4 linked regions of the Homo sapiens genome follow. The protein of the gene in region 3 interacts with the protein of the main gene of each other region in a pairwise test. Each region holds a gene or a part of one and is shown on either strand. Other genes may lie near its edges.

What was found.
Region 1: the proteins of FKBP8 (region 3) and CXCR2 interact in binary tests that used the Homo sapiens proteins (3 or more experiments, as listed by UniProt).
Region 2: the proteins of FKBP8 (region 3) and SLC71A2 interact in binary tests that used the Homo sapiens proteins (3 or more experiments, as listed by UniProt).
Region 4: the proteins of FKBP8 (region 3) and RETREG3 interact in binary tests that used the Homo sapiens proteins (3 or more experiments, as listed by UniProt).

The regions. Positions count from the first base shown.
Region 1 is NC_000002.12:218,124,619-218,128,827, reverse strand, and holds the start of CXCR2 (C-X-C chemokine receptor type 2), read right to left. Parts: upstream 2,801-4,209; 5' UTR 2,475-2,800; intron 1-2,474. UniProt on the Homo sapiens protein: Receptor for interleukin-8 which is a powerful neutrophil chemotactic factor. Binding of IL-8 to the receptor causes activation of neutrophils. This response is mediated via a G-protein that activates a phosphatidylinositol-calcium second messenger system.
Region 2 is NC_000009.12:94,377,569-94,381,068, forward strand, and holds part of SLC71A2 (hippocampus abundant transcript-like protein 1), read left to right. Parts: intron 1-3,500.
Region 3 is NC_000019.10:18,532,795-18,537,847, forward strand, and holds part of FKBP8 (peptidyl-prolyl cis-trans isomerase FKBP8), read right to left. Parts: intron 4,980-5,053; coding exon 4,807-4,979; intron 554-4,806; coding exon 476-553; intron 2-475; coding exon 1-1. UniProt on the Homo sapiens protein: Constitutively inactive PPiase, which becomes active when bound to calmodulin and calcium. Seems to act as a chaperone for BCL2, targets it to the mitochondria and modulates its phosphorylation state.
Region 4 is NC_000017.11:42,582,195-42,585,374, forward strand, and holds part of RETREG3 (reticulophagy regulator 3), read right to left. Parts: intron 3,069-3,180; coding exon 2,931-3,068; intron 1,387-2,930; coding exon 1,304-1,386; intron 613-1,303; coding exon 480-612; intron 77-479; coding exon 1-76. UniProt on the Homo sapiens protein: Endoplasmic reticulum (ER)-anchored autophagy regulator which exists in an inactive state under basal conditions but is activated following cellular stress.

The sequences.
Region 1 (4,209 bases), on a different chromosome or scaffold from region 3:
CTGATGCCTCTACTTCTTGGCCCCACTCCTGCCTCTTGTCTTTCCCCTCACTCCCCAACCATCTGCTCTGACCACAAGTCCATCTCTGGGTATTGATATTCTTTCTTGTTTCGCACACTTGGCATTGGGTCTGAGGACACCAACTCTGCAGCAGCTTACCACCCTTGGAGCCAAGACCCTCTAATTTGGAAAGAAAGCCTTTTGGTAAAAGGGAAGATTCCACCAAAGTCCAAATGCATTTTTAAAAACAATGTTAAGTGACCCTAAGAATGTATTTTATCAATTTGCTATTGATTACAAATGAATGAATTAATCCAGGCAGAGCCATGAACACTAATTCTGCTGTCTCACAAGTGCCCACCCCAGTGAACAACACCTCAATCCCCTCCATTATTCCTTACCCTATCTCTTGCTCCATGCATCCCAGGGCCCAGAGGGGACTCAATCCCTGTGGCAGACGCACTTAAATTGCCTGCCTACCCCAAAGAAAGAATCTTTGAGTCCAACTGTTCAGCAAATGTTTCTTAGTCTTTGTCACCTCTCTTTCCCAAGCTGGGGAAGAATGCAATGCCACCTGGCCAGTTGATGCTAAAACCAGATAGAGGCTTATTACATATGGAGAGAGGCAGATGACACCAGGGCTAGCTGAGCAATTCTGGGCAAGTGACTTTTCCTTTCTGAGTCTCAGTTTACTCATCTGTAAAATGGGGCCAATACAGAATCCAACTCATGGGGTTGTGGTGAGGATGAAATGAGGGATTGCTTGTAAATCACGTAAAACATACATAAAGTACAATGTTAACCTTTATTGTTGTGATCATTATTACTGGAATAGTTTATTCACTGATAACATGCTGCCTCTCTCACTACATCCCCAGTCAAGGGAAAGCAGTCGGCAGTGGGTCTGCTTTCAAGGCTGACTTTGATGACATCTAATTTACTTTGACCTGGATATTAATTGTCATATTAGCTGTAATGTTGAGTGTCTACCAGGTTCTAGCTTCTGGGCAAAGTGCTTTCCAGAATTTGTATCAATTAATCCTCAGGATAACCTCACGAAGCAGGCACTTTCTGGAAGAGGAAATGAAGACTCTGAGAGGTTAAGCAACATACCTAGAGTGACACAGCTGAACTAGGTTTTCAGTTTAAAAAACTTCTAAAAATCTGCTCTCAAATCCTATCTCCTGTTCACTGTAATAAGGAGCAGGATCCCAGCCTAAAGTTTCTGAGCTCCATTAGGTACCTCCCTGTGTCCCAGAAAGTCAGATACAAAGGATGTAGAGAGGGGAGCCCAGATTTGACATTTCCCAGTCAGCCTCCTTCTTCATGCTCCTTAGGTCAATTTCATTTCCATGGAGATCACTGCGGTTATATGCAGGGTGGAGTGAATTAAAAAACTGGCTTCTGGTGCGGTGGCTCATGCCTGTAATCCCAGCACTTTGGGAGGCTGAGGTGAGTGGATCACTCGAGGCCAGGAGTTACAGAACAGCCTGGCCAACATGGTGAAACCCCGCCTCTATTAAAAATGCAAAAATTAGCCAGGCGTGGCAGCGCACGCCTGTAATCCCAGCTACTCCAGAGGCTGAGGCATAAGAATTGCTTGAACTCGGGAGGCAGAAGTTGCAGTGAGCCGAGATTGTGCCATTGCATTCCAGCCTGGGCGACAGAGCAAAACCCTGTCTCAAACAAAAACAAAACAAAAACCTGGCTTCTAATCCTGCTTGGAGAAGTCATTCTTTCTGGGCCTTGTTGTGTGCCTTTGGAAAACGGGAGCTTCTTCTAATTCTATTCTGTTCAGCATGCTAGCTACTAGCCATGTGTAGCTATTTAAATTAAAATTAATTAAAATAAAGGCCAGGCAAGGTGGCCCATGCCTGTAATCCCAGCACTTTGGGAGGCCGAGGTGGGCGGATCGCTTGAGCCCAGGAGTTTGAGATCAGCCTGGGCAACATGACGAAACCCTGTCTTTACAAAAACAAAAACAAAACAAACAAACAAACAAAACCCAAAAAATTAGCTGAGTGTAGCGGCACATGCCTGTAGCTGCAGCTACTTGGGAGGCTGAGGTGGGAGAATCACCTAGACCTGTAGGTTGAGGTTGCAATGAGCCAAGATCATGCCACAGCACTCCAGCCTGGGCATTGGAGTGAGAGCCTGTCTCAAAAAAGAAAAAATAAAATAAAATAAAATGAAATAAAAATTGAGATCCGCAGTCACACTAGTCACATTTCAAGTGCTCCGTGGCCACGTGTGACTAGTGGCTACCATACTGGGCAGGGCAGGTCTAGGACATTTCTATTATTGCAGAAAATTCTTTTGTGCAACACTGTCTAGGTGAAGACTTAGTTGTCTTTAGCTCTAAGCTTCTACACTTCATCACCCCAGTTCTCAGGGGCCTCAGAGGAGGCTGAAGTTTCCAGATCTCTTCCATTAGAAATATGTTGCCAGCATCTCAGACTGAACAAGTCACCTACCTGCTGTTATTGGAGTGGCCACCGATGTCTTCACTGTGCCTCAAGGTTGGGTGGTAGTCAGAGCTGTTAGACAGGAAAAAAAAGATGAAACAACCTTGACGATGAAACTTCTGACCTGGGTTGCAAGGGGGAAATCCAGGATGCCCTCCTGGGGAGGTATTCCCACAGAGGAACAATGAGGTCTGTCCTGGGACTTTGGCCCAGGACAGGTGCCACTTAGTGATTCTGGGATGAGTGCTGGGGATTTTCACATCTTCCTGTCTGATGGCTTCTGGAGGAGCCTACCAGTCTGAAGGTGGAGATTTGTCTATCCACCTTCTGTCTCTGAATGTTTTGAACCTGCACTTCCTTTTTTAACAAGGAAGATGCAGGCATCCCAGCCCCCGCCAACGGACTTGTCTGAACTCGCACGCAGTTTCTTCCTTCTTTCCGGGGTCAGAGTGAGAAGCGTCCCTCCTTCTGTTTCTGTTGAATCCCCGCACCTGACTGTGGGACCCACTGCCTCTCTGGTCCTTGAGGATCCTGCTTTCTCTCCCCTCTGTCCTGGCTCTTTCCCTTCTACCACATCTTACTTATGGCTTTATCATGCTCCCTCTGTCCTAGCACCCTTCAGCCACCACAGCTGCTCTCTCCACTTCCTCACCTCCCCTCTGCTGCTCAACAAAGACACTGCAACTGGCTTCCTTCCTACTGCTCCACTGAAATAACTTTCGCCAAGGTTCCCAATGACCTCTGGGTTACTAAACCCAGCAAATCCATTAAAAAAAAAAACAAAAACAAATTGCTTTCTTTCCCCCCAAGACAACAGATTGGAGGCAGCATTAGCATGCCTCTCCCATCTGGAAGGACAGAATAGCGTGTAGAGATTCACACTATAATTTTTTTTTCTCCAGGAACGAATGCAGGAACTGAACAGGAAAGCTGAAAGAATCCACAGAACTTTTGAAAGAAGTGGCAGGCTGCAGCCTACTCTGTGAGACAGGCAAAAACTCACCTCTAGGCAGAATAGCACTGTACCCAGGAAGGAGAAAACGGCTGCATATTCTCAGCTATCACCACTGCTTACAACACCCTGGCTAACCAGAAGTCCTGCGTCTGTCCACGTGATAAGTTCACTATAATTATAACCAGCATTTGAGAAAGTCAATACTCTAAGTCTATCTACAACCAAGGAATCTTGCAGAGTTTGCATCACTCCCCTCCCACTTCTGTCAGAGATGGTGCTGGTATTCACTGCTGGGAGTCTTGAAGACAGGTAACACCACTGGATCCCTTGCAGACATTCCCTAGCACCAGCCCAGAGTCTGGTAGGCCCACTGGGTGGCTAGACCCAGAAGAGCACTGTAGTCTGGCTTCCAGGAAGTCCCATTCCTAGAGGAAGGGGAAGAACATCACATCAAGGGAATACCCTGTGGAACAAAAGAATCTGAATGGCAGGGCTTGAGTCCCAGATCTTTTCACTGGTGGGAAGTTTCCTATTGCAGAGACAATTGCTGTGCTGGGCAGAGTGGGGGAAAGTTTGCACCTCTACCCAATAGGCAGGCAGCCTCTGGTATTGTGAAGGGTCTTAGAGAAGGGATCCTTGTTCCCCCTGGTACGCCACTGCAGACAGAGCTGGGGCTTCTCCCAAAGGAACGCAGCATTGATGCACCTATAGACAGCCTTCCTGGAACAAATCAGGGTGATTGCATCCCCACGGGAGGAGCACTCCCCAGATTCAGGTTTGCATGACAGG
Region 2 (3,500 bases), on a different chromosome or scaffold from region 3:
GAGATGAAGTCTTCCTGTTTCCCAAGCTGGTCTCAAACTCCTGGGCTCAAATGATCCTCCTGTCTCAGCCTCCCAGTGCTGGGATTATAGGTTAGAGCCATGATGCTTGGCCTGACAACTTTTTTCTACCTTATTTGGCAAAGAGATATATTGACCAGAAAAAGATACTGGCAGAGAGATGTCATAATCTGAAAAATAAAAGAGAATCAAGTATTTACTCCAAGAGATCATTTCCTTCTAGAAAAGGGAGGTGTGTCGCCGGGCACGGTGGCTCACACCTGTAATCCCAGCACTTTGGGAGGCTGACGTGGGCGGATCACAAGGTCAAGAGATCAAGACCATCCTGGCCAACATGGTGAAATCCTGTCTCTATAAAAATATAAAAGTTAGCTGGGCATGGTGGCAGGCGCCTGTAGTCCCAGCTACTCAGGAGGCTGAGGCAGGAGAATCGCTTGAACCTGGGAGGCGGAGGTTGCAGTGAGCTGAGATCGTGCCACTGCACTCCAGCCTGGCGACAGACTGCACTCCAGCCTGGCGACAGAGCGAGACTCCATTTCCAAAAAAAAAAAAAGGAGGTGTATGTTAGCTGTTTGCGTTGCTGTAAAGGAATACCTGAGAATACCTGAGACTGGGGAATTTATCAAGAAAAGTGGTTCTTTAGGCTGTACAGGAAGCTTAGCACCAGCATCTGTTTCTGGTGAGGGCCTCAGAAAGCTTGCAATCAGGACAGAAGGCGAAGGGGAAGCAGCTTATCACGTGTTGGGGAGGGAGCAAGAGAGAGAGGGGAGGAGGTGCCAGGCTCCTTTTAGCAATGAGATCTTGGCCGCGTGCGGTGGATCACTTAAGGTCAGCAGTTGGAGACCAGCGTGGCCAACATAGTGAAACCCCATCTCTACTAAAAATACAAAAATTAGCCGGGTGTGATGGTGCATACCTGTAGTCCTAGCTACCTGGGAGGCTGAGACAGGAGAATTGTTTGAAACTGGGAGGCGCCACTGCACTCCACCCTGGGTGACAGAGTGAGACTCTGTCTCAAAAACAAACAATAAACAAAACCAATCAGATCTTGTGGTAACTAATGGAGCGAGGACTCACTCATTACTGTGAGAAGGACACCAAACAATTGAGAAGAGATCAGCCCCCATGACCCAAACAGCTGCCACTAGACCCCACCTCCAACACTGGGGGTCACATTTCAACATGAGATTTGGAGGAGACAGATATCCAAATGCTATCTGCCTTAAAAACAAATTGGATAGTTTGGTTTTCTATTCTGTGGAAGAATTTGTGTAAGATTGGTAATACAGTTCTAGAACTTTATAGTTCTTGGCCTTTTGGAGATTAATTCTAGAACAGCGTAGGTTTTCTGTTTGATTTTTAGTTCTGTCAGTTTCAGTAAGTTGTGTTTTGTTGGGAATTTGCCCATTTTATCTAAAATGTCAAATTAGTTGGCATAAAGCTGTGAATAATGACCTCGTAGGCTCTTTTCACCTTCTGTAGGGATTCTTGGTGTGCATTTCCTTTTTTTTTTTTTTGAGACGGAGTTTCACTGTTGTTGCCCAGGCTGGAGTGCAATGGTGTGATCTTGGCTCACTACAGCCTCTGCCTGCCGGGTTCAAGCGATTCTCCTGCCTCAGCCTCCCATGTAGCTGGGATTACAGGCTTGTGCCACCATGCCCGGATAATTTTGTATTTTTAGTAGAGATGGGGTTGCACCATGTTGGCCAGGCTGGTCTTGAACTCCTGACCTCAGGCGATCCACCTGCCTTGGCCTCCCAAAGTGCTGGAATTACAGGCGTGAGCCACTGCGCCTGGCCCTTTTTTTTTTTTTTTTTAAGAGGTGAGGCCTCACTCTGTCATCCAGGCTGGAGTGCGGTGGCGCACAATCATAGCTTGCTGTAACCTTAAACTCCTGGGTTCAAATGATCCTCCTGCCTCAGCCTCCCTAGTAGCAAGGACTATAGGCACGTGGCACTATGCCTGGCTAGTTTTTAAATTTTTTTGTAGAGATTGGGTCTCACTGTGTTGTCCAGGCTTGTCTTGAACTCCTGGCCTCAAGTAATCCTCCAGCCTCAGCCTCTCAGAGTGCTGGGATTATAGGCATGAGCCACCATGCCTGGCTGGTACTCTGCATTGATAACTTGTGCTTTGTCTTTCAAAAAATATTTAATTTTGTAGGATCTTCTGGATAAATATTCACAAATATTGCACGTGTTGATAATTTTATATCTTATTTTGATGTTAAATGAACTAGAATATCCAGGAAAGTATTCAATGGTAATGGTAAAAGTGCATACAACCTCCTCTACGTAACAGGAATACATTAATTTTTTCTTACTGTTAGGTATCCTTTTGGCTGTATACACGTAAACATGCTTTATTACCCTATGGAAGCATTTTTGAAATTTCTCAGTTTCAGCTGGACGCGGTGGCTTACGCCTATAATCCCAGCACTTTTGGAGGCTGAGGCAGGCGGATCACGAGGTCAGGAGATTGAGACCATCCTGGCTGACGCGGTGAAACCCTGTCTCTACTAAAAATACAAAAAATTAGCCAGGCGTGGTGGTGGGCGCCTGTAGTCCCAGCTACTTGGGAGGCTGAGGCAGGAGAATGGCGTGAATCTGGGAGGTGGACCACGCTTGCAGTGAGCAGAGATCGTGCCACTGCACTCCAGCCTGGGCGACAGAGCGAGACTCTTTCTCAAAAAAAAAAAAGAAATTTCTCAGTTTCTTACATGTGTTCTCTCTTCCCCTTTTCCTCTTCCCTTCCTCCAGTTCAGCATGTCATAGAACTTTCACAAGTGGTTATGAAATCTTAGATATGCTATGGAGAAAGAGGTTATGGCATAGCAAGAGCATTGTTCTGTGAGAATTGGAGAGAAATCTATTCTTAATGTGTATTTATTTATTTATTTTTGAGACAAGAGTCTTACTGTTTCATCCAGGCTGGAGTGCAGTGGTGTGATTATGGCTCAGTGCACCCGGGAACTCCAGGGCTCAAGTGATCTTCCTGCCTCAGCCTCCTGGTAGCTGGGACTACACGTACGTCCCATCATGCCTGGCTAATTTTTAAATTTTTATTTGTAGAGATGTGCTCTTGCTTTGTTGTCCAGGCTGGTCTCGAACTCCTGGCTTCAAAGAATCCTCCTGCCTTGGCCTCCCAAAGCATTGGGATTGCAGGTGTGAGCCACTGTGCCCAGCATTAGTCTGACTTTTTTATAGTTAGCTTTGTATTTGCTTGTCTTTTTTAAACAACCTTATTCAGTTTAATTGACATAAAATAAACTGTGTGTTTGGAGTGCACAGTTTTGTGTTGTGACATATCTATACACCTGTGAAACCATTATCATAATCAAGATAGTAAACATATTCATCACCCTCAAATGTTTCTTTTTACCTCCCTCTACACCTCCATTTCCAGGCGATAATTTATCTACTCTGTCACTATATATTGGCTTGAATTTTCTTCCCCCTTTTTTTTTTTTTGAGATGGAGTTTCAC
Region 3 (5,053 bases):
TCTGCAGAAGGCAGGGGAAGCTGAGAACACGCAGCGGCCAACCTGTCATCACTGGCGCTCTGCCTTACTGGGACCCTAGGCTGTTTGGGTGGTGGGACTGTTGGGACACAGGGGTCCCATCTGCCCCTTTCTGGGCTTAGCAAAGTCAGGGCTGCTGACCCCATCCCTCCTAGGGAGCCAATTGATGGCGCAGAGCACAAGGTAGCCAGGAGACAAAAGGTTCTGGAAGGAAGGCCAAGGACACTGGCATGGAGCAGGCTGGCAGTGCCCTCAGCTGCTGGAGGAGTGAGAGCCCAGACTGCCTGTGTGGCCGTCATGAGGGTCTTCACAAGCTGACCAGGACCCTTCAGGTACCTACTCCGTGCCACTGCCCAGGTGGGAACACAACAGAGAGCCACAGCAAGAAAGACCTGGGGCAGACCGCAGGAGGGACTTCCCAGCCGAGCAAGTCCCAGGGCACCCCTGTCCTGCTCACCTTGTTGGAAGGTTCCAGCTTCAGGGCTGCCCTCAGGATGGGGATGGCCTCACTGTACTCCCCCTGCTGGGCCAGCACCTGTAAGGGGAAGGGGGTGGCATCACTCTGGACCCATACCTGGGCCTGTCCTTCAAGAAATCCAGCCCAGGAGGTTGCAGTGAGCCAAGATGGTGTCACTGCACTCCAGCTTGAGCAACAGAGCAAGACTCCATCTCAAAAAATAAAATAAAATAAAAACAGCCTGGCCAACATGGAGAAACCCCGTCTCTACCAAAAAATACAAAAATTAGCCAGGCGTGGTGGCATGCACCTGTAGTCCTAGCTACTCAGGAGGCTGAGGTGGGAGGATTGCTTGAACCAGGGGGCAGAAGTTGCAGTGAGCCGAGATCACACCACTGCACCCCAGTCTGGGTGACAGAGTGCAACCCTGTCTTAAAAAAAGAAAAAAAAAAAAGGGTCGGGCGCAGTGGCTCATGCCTGTAATCCCAGCACTTTGGGAGGCCGAGGCGGGCGGATCACAAGGTCAGGAGATCAAGACCATCCTGGCTAAGACGGTGAAACCCTGTATCTACTAAAAATACAAAAAAAATTAGCTGGGCGAGGTGGCGGGCGCCTGATAGTCCCAGCTACTCGGGAGGCTGAGGCAGGAGAATGGCGTGAACCCGGGAGGCGGAGCTTGCAGTGAGCCGAGATCGTGCCACTGCACTCCAGCCTGGGCGACAGAGTGAGACTCCATCTCAAAAAAAAAAAAAAAGGCTGGGCGCGGTGGCTCACACCTGTAATCCCAGCACTTTGGGAGGTCAAGGCAGGCGGATCAAGAGGTCAGGACGTCAAGACCATCCTGGCTAACATGGTGAAACTCCGTCTCTACTAAAAAATACAAAAAAATTAGCCGGGCATGGTGGCGGGCGCCTGTAGTCCCAGCTACTCGGGAGGCTGAGGCAGGAGAATGGCGTGAACCCAGGAGGCAGCACTTGCAGTGAGCCGAGATCACGCCACTGCAGTCCAGCCTGGGCGACAGAGCGAGACTCCGTCTCAAAAACAAACAAACAAACAAAAAAAACAGCCAGGCTCCTGGCTACTCATACAAGTGCCAAATGGAGCTCTGGCAACATCCCTGGGTTCCAGCCACTCCCAAACTGCTCTCCTAGCCCTCAAACTCCATCAGTGCACACTTAGCTTGGCATTGGTCCCCGCAACATGCTCCTCCTTCCTGTCTCAGCTGCAGATCTAGGCACCCACCTCGCTGCCTCCTCCCTCACCACCTCCACTGGCGAGAGGCCGAATGGATGCTTCCAGAGGTTGTTGTTTTTTTTTTCTCTTTCCTTTAGAGACAGGGTCTTGATCGGTCACCCAGGCTGGAGTGCAATGGCATGATCATAGCTCACTGCAGCCTCAAACTCCTAGGCTCACACAATCCTCCAGCCTCAGCCTCCCGAGGAGCTGGGACTACAGGCGTGTACTACCATGTCCAACGAATTATTTATTTATGTATTTATTTATAAAATTATTATTACTATTGTTATTATTATTATTTTGAGATGGAGTCTCACTCTCGCCCAGGCTGGAGTGCAGTGGCACGATCTTGGCTCAATGCAAGCTCTGCCTCCCGGGTTCACGCCATTCTCCTGCCTCAGCCTCCCGAGTAACTGGGATTACAGGCACCTACCACCACCGGCTAATTTTTGTATTTTTAGTAGAGACAGGGTTTTACCATGTTGGCCAGGCTGGTCTCAAACTCCTGACCTCAAGTGATCCACCTGCCTCAGCCTCCCAAAGTGCTGGTATTACAGGCATGAGCCACCGCTCCAGGCCTACTTATTTATTTATTTTATTTTAGAGACAGGGCCATGTTCCCCAGGATGGTTTCGAACTCCTGGGCTCAACCAATCCACCTGCCTCGGTCTCCCAAAGTGCTGGGATTATAGGCGTGAGCCACCACGCCCAGCCCTTAATTATTTTTTAAATTTTTGTAGCAATGGGGTCTCACTATGCTGCCAAGACTGGTCTTGAATTCCTGGGCTCAAATGATCCTCCTACCTTGGCCTCCTGAAGTGCTGAGATTACAGGCGTGAGGCACCACACCTGGCCCTGATGTTTCCAAAGCTTTGGCCATAGTGAATGATTCAGGACCAGGCACATGACCCAAATGAGTCAATGAGATCCAGCCTGCACTATGCTGGTGCTGATGGGAGATGGGTTGCTAAGGGGAGAAGATGGAGCTGGGCGAAGTGGCTCACGCCTATAATCCCAGCACTTTGGGAGGTCAAGGCAGGTGGATCACTTGAGGTCAGGAGTTCAAGACCAGCCTGGCCAACATGGTGAAACCCCGTCTATACTAAAAATACAAAAAAAGGCTGGATGTGCTCGCTTGAACCCAGGAGGCAGAGGTTGCAGTGAGCCAAGATCGTGCCACTGCACTCCAGCCTGGGTGACAGAGCAAGACTCTGTCTCAAAAAAAAAAAAAAAAGGAGGGGGTAGAAGATGGAAATCTGTAACTTTCCAGGGGGGAGGGGGGAGCATCATGGTCACCCTGAGAGAGGAGCCGGCCCAGGAGGGAAGGTCAGAGCAGAGAAACAGCATCCCCACAATATTGTGAGTGCCTGGATCCAGCTATGCCTGAAGCCAGCTAATCCAAACTTGGCAGTTCCATGAGCTATCGATCCCTCCTTTCTGCTTGAACCTGTTTGAGTGGGTTTCTATCACCTTCAACCAGCAGGTCCAAACTTGTATGAAGCTACACAAGCAGCCACTCCTGCTGCCCCCAGGAGGATACTACCCCCAGGTTGAGAACAAAGCCTTCAAAAACAGGAACTGCATCTTCTCCCTCTTCATATTTCTCTGCAGAACTCCGCACACAGTATGTCCTTAATAAATCCCAGCTGGAGGGAGCCCCACCTCAGGCTTTTCAGAAACACAGCAGGTGAGCCAGTATCTGTGCCTCAGTTTCCTTCGTTAACTGCTAAAAGGTCCTGAAAGCCCCACCTAGGGGTGAGGCTGTGAGGATGAACAGAAAAGGGGGTGAGAATGAAGGTCAAGTCTGTGCAAGCCAGATTCACCCCTATGTTCTGCCAGAACTTTTTTTTCTGTTCTCGTGTTTTGTTTTTGACACAGGGTCTTGCTCTGCTGCCAAGGCTGGAGTGCAGTGGTGTGATCAAGGCTCACTGCAGCCTTGACCTTCGGGGCTCAAGCCATCCTCAGCCTCCTGAGCAACTGGGACGACAGGCCCGCGCCCCCACACCCAGCTAATTTTTGTATATTTTGGGTAGAGAAGGGGGTCTCCCTATGTTGCCTGGGCTCGTCGCAAATGTCTGGGCTCATGCGATCCTCCTGCCTTGGCCTCCTGTAATCCCAAGTGCTGGGATTACAGGAATGAGCCATTGTGCCTGGCCTCTGCCAGGACTTTTACTGAGCACCTACTATGTACCTGGCCCTGTTTGCAAGGCTGGAGATCCGGCAGTGAGCAAGACAGACCAAATCTCCACCTTTGAGTAAGGTAGATGGACAAGAGGCATGTCACCTCCACGTGCTGCCTGTCAGGAACATCTCAGACAGTCGGCAATGCCTACGCAAAGGCCCTGAGGTGGAGAGAGCCTGGCTAGACAGCAGAAAGGGAGAATGCCACGTGGGATGGAGAGAAGCAGAAAGTGAGGTGGGAGAAGTGATAGCAGGAGGGGGAAGACCAGACAACTCAAGGCCCCAAGGGCTGTGACTAGGATTCCACTTTACTCTGAGGAAAACTGGGACCCATGGAGGTTCTATGGGAGGAGGTTTCAACACTGGGCCAAGCCGGGCACGGTGGCTCAGGCCTGTAATCTCAGCACATGGGGAGACTGAGGCGGGCAGATCACTTGAGGTCAGGAGTTCGAGACCAGCCTGGCCAATATGGCTAACCACATCTCTACTAAAAATACAAAAATTAACTGGGTGTGGTGGCTCGCACCTGTAGTCCCAGCTACTTGGGAGGTTGAGGCAGGACAATCGCTTGAACCCAGGAGGAGGAGGTTGCGGTGGTGAGCTGAGATCACACCACTGCACTCCAGCCTGGGTGACAGAGTGAGACTCTGTCTCAAGAAACAAACAAACAAACAAACAAAAAACACTGGGCCAAAGGTTGGGGACCCAAGACTCGAGGATCAAATTCTGGCCTCAGCCAATGAATTGTTGTGACCAGGCCACACTCCTGCACCCGTCTGGGCCTCAGTTTCTCCACCTGCACCCCACAGAGCTCAGCTGGCTTATATACCTATGCCTTTCTCAAATGCAGGGTTGGGGACCACCCCGTATACCCCAGGCTGAGTGACCCGGCCTGGCACCCCGGTGTGGCCTACCTTGCCCTTGCGGAAGAGAGCCTTGATGTTGTCTGGCTGGTGCTCCAGCACAAGGCTGCAGGAGCGCAGGGCTGCGCGGTAGTGGTCGAGCTTCAGCTGCGAGGCCGCCAGGTTGTTCAGACACTTCACCTTCAACTGCAGGAGCTGTGCCTCCTCCTCGAACGTCATGTCCACTATTGGGAGACAGTGCCCGCCACGGCAGCCGTCACCATGCCACCAGACACCCCGGCACCCACCCCTCTGCGGA
Region 4 (3,180 bases), on a different chromosome or scaffold from region 3:
GGATCCATATTAATGGAAGGGAAGTCTGGAAGGTCTCTGGCAAAGGATTCCTCTGGATCACTGTGACCATCTAGGTCTGGTGGAATACAGAAGTGTCTGAGTCATGGCACCTACCTGGCCCTCCTGTGCCCCAGCCCCACATGACCAGATTTTTCCCACCCTGGCTTTCTCAGGGCGAAATAAACCCATGGGACTGGTATACCTTTCCCCTCCACTTATAGGTGGCTGTGATCTCTACACAATTCCCCCTCTCTTCTATGTCCCCTGTGAGGCTAGTGCCTGAGGCTACTAAGGGACTAAAGTCTTCAAGAAGGGCAGCAGTGCCATCCTGGCTGTAGCCACAGCACTCAGGCTGCTCTGCCGCCTGATCCATAGCTCAGAAAACAGGAGAGGGGCAAGCACCAGTATCCCCTCTGTTCAGGGAAGCTAAGAGGCAACAGTCAGAGCCATTATCAACTGAGGTCAAAGGCTCCCCTCACCTTCAGAGCCTTCCGTTAGAGGTGTTTGGCCCCTTGAAAGATTGAATGTGCCATTGTCTGTACAGGAGACTTCAGCGTCTGAGTGCTCAGAGTCTGTGATGGCCAATTCCCTGGCAACAGTAGAATCGTCCAGCTTAGGAAAAGACCAACAAATGTGAGATAATGCCATCAGGAACCAGGTGTAGTCACCAGGTACAGCTTTACTAATCAGCTAGCATTAGTTATCCGAAGGCCATCAAATCAATGTAACCAGGGATAGATGGTAACTTCCCGTTGAAAACTCCCTCTCCCCTTTATTTTTTTTTTAATCAATACATGTGAAAGTAACAACAACAAAAAAAATCTTGACCCCTTTTAGGCTGCTCTCCCAAAGAAAACACTCATTCATAACCTCTTAAGCACAGGAAGAAAAGCAGTCTTGGGGGAGTCAATTACCCACTTACTTTAAGGCAAATAATTGATCCAGAGATAATTTTTCAAAGTGGTAGGAGGATACACATACTGCACAGACCCAAGGGTGAACTGGGCTGTTTAAAAGATGATCATACTAGCTCCAGAAGTTCTTCCATAATGGTAGGGTAAAAAGAGATACGGAAGAGCGGTGCTGGGCATCAGGCTCTAATTGAGACCTAGGTTGATTACAGGAATGATATGATAAAGAAAAAAATTGAGATCTAGGAACAAAGTCTCACTTCTCTCCTTGTCTTGGGAACAAGGGGAGTCTAAGGCCTCAAACCTGGTTATGGCCTAAATGTGAGCTGTCGGATGGTTAAAAGGTAGCTAAAGAAAACTGGACAGTGAAGCAGCTCCCACACTCAAGATACCTGAGGACAGAAGGCAGCAAGCTCCTCTTCGCTGTCACTGTGGTTGTCCATGGCTCGTTCTGGGTGGAGAGCTCTGCGGCGTACTGTGGGAAGAGCACAAAGTCTTGCTTGATACCTTCTCCCAGCGTAAAATCCCCTTTGGACTTTAAAGACATAAAATCAGAACACAAAACAAAGAGCCTCTCTGAATCTGGCTCTAAGCCTACATAATAATAACAGAAGGCTGAGCTGCTGAGCCTAAATGCAAGGTGAGTTGAAAACACTGGAGAAAATATCTCAGCTTCCAACATCCTCTCCACCAGACCCTACATATTTCTTTTTTCTTTTGAGATGGAGTTTTGTTCTTGTTGCCCAGGCTGGAGTGCAATGGCGCGATCTCGGCTCACTGCAACCTCTGCCTCTTGGATTCAAGCAATACTCCTGTCTCAGCCTCCTGAGTAGCTGAGATTACAGGTGCTCACCATCACACCTGGCTAATATTTGTATTTTTAGTAGAGACGGGGTTTCATCATATTGGTCAAGCTGGTCTCGAACTCCTGACCTAAGGTGATCCGCCCACCTCAGCCTCCAAAAGTGCTGGGATTACAAGTGTGAGCCACTGCGCCCGGCCTGGCACACATTTCTATTCTGGTCAGATGATCAAATACCAGGCTTTGTCAACAACTCTCTGGATGGCTAAAGGCAGACCTAATGTCAAGGTGTTAAGTGGACATGATCAAAGAGAGGGCAAAAGGAGATGCACACCTTGTTAAATCAGACTTTTGAGGACTGGTATTATTCAACTGGCTGCCCCAAGGGGACTTGGGCCTTGGTGACCAAGTGCAGGGCTCTTTGAAGGCCAGGCCTCCATAAAACACAAAACCTGACAAGACCACACAAGGGAGGGAAAAGTTTGTACTACCATCATTGTGTTGCATGGATCTCAGGCTAGTACACTTACAACCTCTGAGGCAGCAGTTTTTAATCACCTTTGGGAGGCAGCTTTTACTAGTGAAGAGACCAGGCTTAGGAGTTGAAAGGATCTGCTCTGGGCTCAGCACGGTGGCTCACACCTGTAATCCCAACACTTTGGAACGCCAAGGCAGGAGGATCGCTTGAGCCCAGGAGTTCAGGATCAGCCTGGGCAACATGAGACCCCATCTCTACAAAAAAATTTAAAAATCAGATAGATGTGGTGACACATGCCTGTAGTCCCAGCTACTGAAGGGTTTGGCGGGGCTGAGTAGAAGGATCACTTGAGCCTGGGAGGTCAAGGGTGCAGTGAGCCATGATCATGCCACTGCACTCCAGCCTGGGAAACAGAATGAGACCCTGTCTCAAAAAAAAAAAAAAAAAAAAAACAAACCACAAATACTAGGAATTTATCTTCACTGTCTAGCTTTTATTCAACTTGAAAGAGCTTTTATCAGATAGGTTTAAAACGGGAGCCTAGGATTACAAATGATAAAAACTGGCAAGCCTGCACAGGTTTCCCTAGAACAGAATATCATTTTTACCTATCAATCCTCACCCCCACCAACTACCCCCGACTTCCACTTTTGAGGACCCACCCAGTATGTCAGACCTATGGGCTTCTCCTTTTCGCCCCAAATTGCGTAAGTGGAAAGAATGACACCATGACACTTACATTGTCTCTCTCTCTGCTTGGACATCATGTAGCCACGGACACTGAAGTCTAGCCGCTGCAGAGCTGGCTTCAGCCGCACATATGCTCGATCCCACAGTCGGTGGTACACAGCAAGGGGCCACATCATGACAGTGACAACTGTGAGGAGGCATGGGAAACAGTGACAAAATGGAGAAGGGGCTGCAAAAAACATTCCCAACTGTAGCGCTGCTATTGGTCCTTAGGGCTTGGACACAAAGTGTGGAACAGA